Linked DNA regions of Homo sapiens. The protein of the gene in region 2 purifies or fractionates together with the protein of the main gene of each other region. This does not show direct contact. Each region holds a gene or a part of one and is shown on either strand. Other genes may lie near its edges.

The links.
Region 1: the proteins of C2CD4A (region 2) and ZNF496 purify together in Homo sapiens (affinity purification with mass spectrometry; one large-scale study listed by BioGRID and IntAct). This does not show direct contact.

The regions. Positions count from the first base shown.
Region 1 is NC_000001.11:247,307,778-247,311,587, forward strand, and holds part of ZNF496 (zinc finger protein 496), read right to left. Parts: intron 2,680-3,810; coding exon 2,547-2,679; intron 2,030-2,546; coding exon 1,922-2,029; intron 812-1,921; coding exon 698-811; intron 251-697; coding exon of another isoform or gene 96-250; exon of another isoform or gene 1-95. UniProt on the Homo sapiens protein: DNA-binding transcription factor that can both act as an activator and a repressor.
Region 2 is NC_000015.10:62,065,797-62,070,079, forward strand, and holds the start of C2CD4A (C2 calcium-dependent domain-containing protein 4A), read left to right. Parts: upstream 1-1,180; 5' UTR 1,181-1,292; intron 1,293-1,788; 5' UTR 1,789-1,817; coding exon 1,818-2,927; 3' UTR 2,928-4,283. UniProt on the Homo sapiens protein: May be involved in inflammatory process. May regulate cell architecture and adhesion.

The DNA.
Region 1 (3,810 bases), on a different chromosome or scaffold from region 2:
ACACGTGGGTTCAGGTAAGAATCAGAGGCTTGGGTTTTGTATTGAGAAGAGAAAGATGGCAGTATTGTAGCCTCTGCTTCTGGAAGTGGTGACTTTTACCAAGACGACTCAGAGTCTACACTGTGGCTATTTCTCTGAAAGCAGGAATGGAACATACACTTTCCAAGAGTCCTGTGCAGCTTCAGTATGCCAGAAACCTGCTCTTTAATCCCAGTTCCAAGATTCTGTGCCAGGATGCTGGCCATCCATGCTGAGAGAAGAAAAACACTCACTGCATCACCAACAGCACTACAGCAGCACCCTGCTTTGACACACCCTCCCCGGCCCCTGGGAAAGGCAAGGAGGGTGAGCCTGGGATTGGGAGTGAGCTGGAGAATGACCCCAGCACAACGGAATCAGGGCAAGCAGCTAAGAACACCACAGCAGAGGTCGGCGGGGATCCTGAGGGGTTCAGTTCCTAACTGTCCCATGCCATCACCACCGCACATTTACATCACACACCCACATGCCCCCAACACACAGGTGCACCCATGAATGCACACACTCACACATGCAGCACACCACATATACCACATGTGTATGCACGCACACATGCATTCAACACAACCATCCCCTATGCCACACATGCATACATACATTCATGCGACACACCACAGACACACAGGGACAAACCCATACCTCCCTGACCCTTCTTTACCTGGGTAGGTGTTTTGAGGCACCACCGTCTGTGGGCAGGCCTGGAACTCTGGCACCTGCAGCTCCTCACGTTTCCTTCTTTCTTCTACCTGGAATGGCTGGAGACTTGGAGAGTCTTTCCAGAGGAGGAAATGGAAAAATTGATTTGTTTTGCACCTACAGCACTACCTGGGAGGGTGCTATCCGAATAGATGCCAGGCTACGATCTGGGGGCGGCCCTGGGCTCCGTCCTGGGGACTGGCAGGGGGTGGCCACTCAATAAGTGTCTGCTGAGTGAATGAACCTGAAGGCAAAATGGGCCAACTCCACAAACATGAGCTCTGACGCTAGACAGAATCGACGTAGATCCGGGTTCTACTCCACCCACTCTATGGCCAGAGACAAGCACTTCCCCCAGCCCCATATTTATTCCCACTTTCTGTGGTGGGTTTTCTATAGTCATCACCACAGGCTCCTGCACACTCCGCACATCCTGCACAAACAGCTTGTGCAGAGCCTACAGGGTAGAGATGGTACAGGAGCTACTGCACCACACCAAGTCTCTGAACGCTTGTTCCAGGTGGGGATGGTGTGTCAAAACCTTGTCTGCTTCATGCCAGCTCTAGGTCCCAAAGGGGAAGAAGGTGTGGAGCTGCTGATGATTCTGTACAAAGCTATTTCCTCCTGAAGGAGCAGATGCTTCGAAGCACCATGGCATGGAGATCATGGGTGCAAGTGCTGGCGACACAGCCTGAAGGAGGGCTGGAAACTGCTGCTGCTGAGCCCCAGCACCTCCCCACACCCCAGTGTCCTCACAGCACCCCTGTACCAGGCAGATGGGAAGACTAGACAGGTGAGGCACCTCAAAGGGCTGCGCTCGGTGCCCAGTTAGGAGACACTCCCTCTGCAACTAGGCTTGTCATGAGTATCTGACTTCACTCCTGGAGGGGCTGCTGCATTGTCAGCACAAACCAGATGTTACTTACAGGCAGAGGAGAAAGACATTCCTATTATTTCCCAGTCCTTGGCCAAGGGAGTACAATTCCAATGCCTGGCAAAATTAAGATCCTCCATTCTTTCTATGAAAAGTCAGGGACAAGGCAAGACATGCAAGACCCACATAGAGTCTGGGGAAATGAAGAAGGCAATTAGGGGCCGCAGAGAGAAGCCAGAGAGTGGGCTCACCTCCGGCTGCCAGCAACCCTTCCCCCTACTCTGTCCACTCAGTTCTGGAATCATTACTCACCCAAGTAGGAGACCTGGGGCACTTCTTTGCCCTGGAGATCCTGCAACTCTGGAACGCGTGGCTCATTCTCCTCTCCCTGGGAGAGATCTGGCTGGGCAGCTAGGTCGTCTGTTCAAAGAAAAAGGCAGGGTACATGTTTATTAGTAATCTGATCCTGCAGCAACCAGGGCTGGTCCAGAAGAGAGAAGGCGGAGGGATGCCCAGCGGGCATGGCACCATCAGGGGCGAGAAGTGAAAAGGCCAGAGCTGGCAGTGCAGGGGCAGTGGGGGCAGCACACGCAGGGAGAGCTATGGGCTTGGGGGTCTCTCTGAGGCTTTCGGGTGTAAAGCAGACATAAAGGGACAAAACGGTAAGAACGATGGAAGAGAAATGGACATACAGCACATGTTCTATTTGGTTCTGATAAGCCTGATGTGGCGAGACAGCAGGTGATGGTCAATCGGACACACTGCCTGTAGGGCCGCTGTGTGCAAATGACCTCCTGTCCAGGTTGGGGGTGAACAGAGAGATCTGATGCAGGCCCCGCTTCCCTGATCCTATGGGACGAAGTTGACTCTTACTCCAAGTGAGAACTCCCCTGCCCAGTTCCCTGGTCTTGAGGTGTGGGGGGAAGTTAAGTCTTACTTGGAGGCATTGAGACCCCGTAATCCTCCCCAATGATGAACTCTCCATAGAAGCCAGTCTGGGCAGGATCTAGAAGGGACCAATCCTCTTCAGAGAAGCATAAAATCATGTCCTTGAATGGAGAAACCCGACTCTGAAAGCACAGGAGAACAGGGATGCCTCAGTCCGGGACGAGCTAGGTGTCTCAGTCTTAGTCCACTGAGGCTGTGACAACACAACGCTGTAGGACGGGCAGTTTCTATACAACAGAAATCTGTTCCTCACAGTTCTGGAGGCTGGACGTCCAAGATCAAGGTGCCAGCAGGCTGGGTGCCTGGTGAGGGCCCACTTCTTGGTCAAAAGACAGGTGTCTTCTGTGTCCTTACATGATGGAGAGGGCAAGGGAGTTCTCTGGGGCCTCTTTTAGGAGGGACTAATCCCACTCATGAGGACTTTGCCCTTGTTACCAGATCATCTCCCCAAAAGTCTCCACTTCCTAATACCATCATCTTGGGGATTACAATTTCAACACAAATTTTGGGGAGATATAAACACTGAAACCATAGCATTCTGCCCCTGGTTCCCCCAAATTCATATCCTTTTCACATGCCAAACAAATTCATTCTATCCCAATAACCCTCAAAGTCTTAATTCATTCCAGCATCAACTCAAAAGTCCGGAGTCCAACATCTCATTTAAATATCATCTAAATCAGTTACGGTTGAAACTCAAGGCACAATTCTACCTGACACAAAATTCTCTCCAGCTGTGAACCTGTGAAATGAAACAAGTTATGTGCCTTCCAAATAGTGGTGAGGCCGGCGCAGTGGCTCACACCTGTAATCCCAGCACCTTGGGAGGCCGAGGCAGGCAGATTACCTGAGGTCAGGAGTTTGAGACCAGCCTGGCCAATACGGTTAAACCTCATCTCTACCAAAAATACAAAAAGCAGCCAGGCGTGGTGGTGAGCACCTATAATCCCAGCTACTTGGGAGGCTGAGGCAGGAGAATCATTTGAACCCGGCAGGCGGAGTCTGCAGTGAGCTGAGATCATGCCACTGCACTCCACCCTGGGCAACAGGGTGAGACTCAGTCTTAAAAAAAAAAAAACAAAACACACACACAGAGACACACACACACACACACACACACACACACACATATATAGTGGTGAGACGGGCACAGGATAAACATTCCAGTTCCAAAAAAGGGAAACAGAAAAAAAGAAAAGGAGTAACAGGTCCCCAGCAAGTCCTGAACCTATGGGTCACAGCACATTATGGTT
Region 2 (4,283 bases):
ATTTTACATTATTATTTCCCCAAACAGCTCATTTATACCCATTAGTAGGTATGATTTCCTCCATTTCCCATCATTATGTGACCTTGGATAAGATACTTGACCTCTGAAACTGAGTTTTCATCTATAAAATAAGGATGATCCGAATATGCAGGGTTTCTGTGACAGTTCTACAGACTATATGTAAATCATCTAGCACAGTGCCTGTGTGTCCTGGAAACAAAATGCACATGCCCTATCCTGAAATCATTTTTGCATGAATTCAATTTAATTCATTAAATATTATTTAGACAAGTGAATAGTTTGCAAGGCAGTATCTTAGGCAGAAATATCTGCCTGAACGCTGAACAAAATGCCTCAGATCTCTTTCAGCCTGAGCTAACTGGAAGCAACTCTCTTACAAAATGAACACAGGTTAGTTTTCAAAAGGAAGGAAAAGGGTCTCTCTGGTGGGCACAGCCTAGAAAGGCCAGATGTAGTCAGGGCGCCTCCAAAGGATGATTCCAACTGCCCAGATGCATGCAAGTGTACATTTTCCCGATAAAAAATCAGCACACATGGCTTAAGAAGTAGATTGTGATTTTTTAAATTGATGTATAACATACAATAAAGTACTCTAATCTTAAGTGTACACTAGTTGATTGTTTTTACATATGGATACACCTCTGTAACTCCACCCTGATCAAGACATGAAATGTTCCCCCTAACCCAGAGGGGTTTATAATCAGAAAAGAACATCTAAAATCAGAACTGAAAACCGGAAAGCAAGTAAAGAACTTCGAAAGCTGGGCAACTGGGAAGCTGGATTTGGGGAAGGGTATTAGGCAAGAATAAGACAAACCGGACTTGTCTTCATTTTAATGGTGAATGTAGAGTACTTCTACGTGCTCACATTCATTACGCCCGTCGATCCTCACAATGACTCTGCGGTATAGTAGAGACTTAATACCATTTTGCATGTGAGGAAACAGAAACTTGTTCGGGGTTTCCGAGGAAAACACCTCCACCTGAAGCCGGAGAGAGAAAGAACTGGGTCTCCAAACCTTGCTCAGCAAATCCAGCCACGTGGCAGAGGGACAGGGAAGAGCCTGGCGTCAGGTTACCAGGCAGCGCCCCTCTGCTCGGCCCACTGGCAAGCGCTCCCAGCGGCAGGTATAAAAGCTCAGGCTGGCAGTCCTTGAACACTGGTGCTGAACCCCGCCGCGCGCGCTTTGAATTTCCCAGCCGCTAAGCGCCTCTCCTGGTCGGTGTCCCAGGCAGAAAGGTGCAGAGACCCATCTGACGCAGGACTCCAGGTATTTTAGGAGGGACCCATCGGCTTGCTTAATTCCCTGGGGGATTCGTCTGAGGCTCTTTGCCTCTGCAAGGGGAGAACCAGCCACAGTTTCCCGGAAGGAATAACAATTACTTTAATTCTAGCTGAGGACTAGACTGCTATGGTCCAAAGAGTCAGGAAACGATTGCAAGGCAATCGTTGGCACAGAGAACAGAGCGACTGAAGTTACAATCCAGCATTTTGTGAATCTCTGCCTTAGGCCAGCCAGGGCGGAGAGGGATTAAAACAAGCTCCGAAGTGTGTATTACAACACAGTTGAGATAGGACAAAAGAAAAACAGTTGTTTTTCGCTCACTGAAAAAATAGTTTGCAATAGCGGCAAGCAAGAGCAGTTTGCCTTGTTTCGGGAAAGGCAGGAAGAAACACCCCGAAAGTATTAATAGGAGAAAAGGAACAGGATTTACTGCACCTTGCGGGACTCGCTCTGACGATCCTTGTGCCTTTGTGCACTGCAGGTAGACAAGCTCCAGCAGAGAGTGGCCAGATGTGGTGCCTGGAGCGACTCCGCTTGGGTCCTGAGTGCCTTCGGCGGAGCGGAGACTGGCTTCTCCCGGGTCGGGCCCGCGGAGCCAAGTCTCGCACCACCGCCGCGTGCGCAAATGTGCTCACTCCGGACCGCATCCCTGAGTTCTGCATCCCGCCACGGCTCATGCCCCGCCTGGCCTTGGCTGCGCTCCGGAATTCTTGGGTCGAAGAAGCAGGGATGGACGAGGGCGCCGGCCGCACAGACTGGGACCCGCGCTCGCAGGCCGCGCTGTCACTGCCGCACCTGCCCCGTGTGCGCACCGCCTACGGCTTCTGCGCGCTGCTCGAGAGCCCGCACACGCGCCGCAAGGAGTCGCTCCTGCTCGGGGGCCCGCCCGCGCCCCGGCCCCGGGCCCACACCTACGGCGGCGGCGGCGGCCCGGACGCCCTCCTGGGGACCCTGCGCGTCCCGCGAGCTCCGGGCCCGGCGACCCCCGCGGCCCCCGGCTGTCCCCGCCCGCCCCAGGACGCGCTCGCCCGGCGGCCCCGCGGCTGCCGCCTCCTGCGCGTCCCCGACGGGCTGCTGAGTCGCGCGCTGCGGGCTGGGAGGAGTCGCCGCCTGACCCGCGTCCGCTCCGTCTCCAGCGGGAACGAGGACAAGGAGCGCCGCGCGGGCTCCCAGTCCCCGGCCCGGGCCCCCTCCACGAGCCCGCCGTCGTCCCGGGTCCCGTTTCCCGAGCGCCTGGAGGCCGAGGGCACCGTGGCTCTGGGCCGCGCCGGCGACGCCCTGCGCCTGGCCGCCGAGTACTGTCCGGGAACCGGGCGGCTCCGCCTCCGGCTGCTCCGCGCCGAGAGCCCGGCCGGAGGCGCCCCCGGGCCCCGAGCCGTCAGCTGTCGCCTCAGCCTCGTCCTGCGGCCGCCGGGCACCGCGCTTCGGCAATGCAGCACTGTGGTGGGGCGCAGCCGCAAGGCCTCCTTTGACCAGGACTTCTGCTTCGACGGCCTCTCGGAGGACGAAGTGCGCCGCCTGGCCGTTCGAGTCAAGGCCCGGGACGAGGGCCGCGGCCGGGAGCGGGGCCGCCTGCTGGGCCAGGGTGAGCTGTCCCTGGGCGCCCTCCTGCTGCTCTGAGGGCCCAGCCCTCCCCGGGGCGCTCTGCCCGGGGGACTCCGGACACTGACAGCCGCGTGGTACAAAATAAACGTGTATTTGTTGTTCTTATCAGTCCCGTTTCAGTACAACACTGGCAGAGATGATTCTAGATTAACTATCCCAGTAAAAGATATGATATTTTCCATAGATACCTCCAGAATTTTTTTCAGCAAATGGAATGGTTCTACAGTGTTTCCCAATATAGACAGCCATTTGCATACCATATGTACCACACACGCCTAGGAAATAATGAATCACATGAAGTGTTAGAACTAGAAAGTGTCTTGGCGATCTGTTTGCTCCAATCACCTCATTTTAAAATTGGTGCTTTCCACAACATGCATGGAGACCATCTTGGAGCATTTACTTTTGAAGCATTTTGTTTAAGACCCCGGATAAGAAAATGAGGGCAAAAGAGGTGAAGTGACTTGTCCAAGATCAACAGTGAATTATTAGTTGGAACGCCAGCCTGATACTCCTAGCTATATCTCACTGGAAAAGCATTGGAGAAAATGAAACCATTTTAATATTCTAAGCTTAAATAATAGTTATAATAGGCTAGGTGTGGCGGCTCACGCCTGTAATCCTGGCACTTTGGGAGGCCGAGGCGGGCAGATGGCTTGAGCCCAGGAATTTGAGACCAGGCTGGGCAACATGGGAAGACCGCGTCTCCATAAAAAATACAAAATTTAGCCGGACGTGGTGGCACGCACCTGTAGTTCCAGCTACTCTGGGGCTGAGGCGCAAGGATCACTTGAGCCTGGGAGGTCAAGGCTGCAGTGAGCCGAGATCGTGCCACTGCACTCCAACCTGGGCAACCGGAGTGAGACCCTGTCTGCAAATAATAATAATAATAATAAATAGTTTTACAAGCGTTAATTTATGTTTTAACCCCCAAAAGGAGGCACTGCTATGCCCATTTTACAGATGAGGATATTGAGGCACAGAATAAAGAGCAGAGCCAGAATTTGAACCTAGACAATCAGCATTTCACTCATTACTCTTATGTAGGTAATACCACAGTGTCTAAAGGGCTCGCTATTAAAGTTGCGAGTATTGTGCAACTTCTCTCTGAAACTGTTGACACTGAAGTTCGTGTCTACTTGTATTCCTCATCCTGCTTTTGGTGAAAAAACAAATTGCTTGAAATGAATAATTTATTATCTCATGCTAATAACTTCAGGCATTGAGATGAGCTGATGGGTCTAAAGCTCTGAGGAGGAAGCTAACCGGCCTCAGAATCATAGAAATGGGTGCCAGCCTTGTTGTAACCAGGTGAGTTTATCTGCTGGAACAGGCAGTGGAGAGTGTACAGATAGCATGGTTTTACCTCTG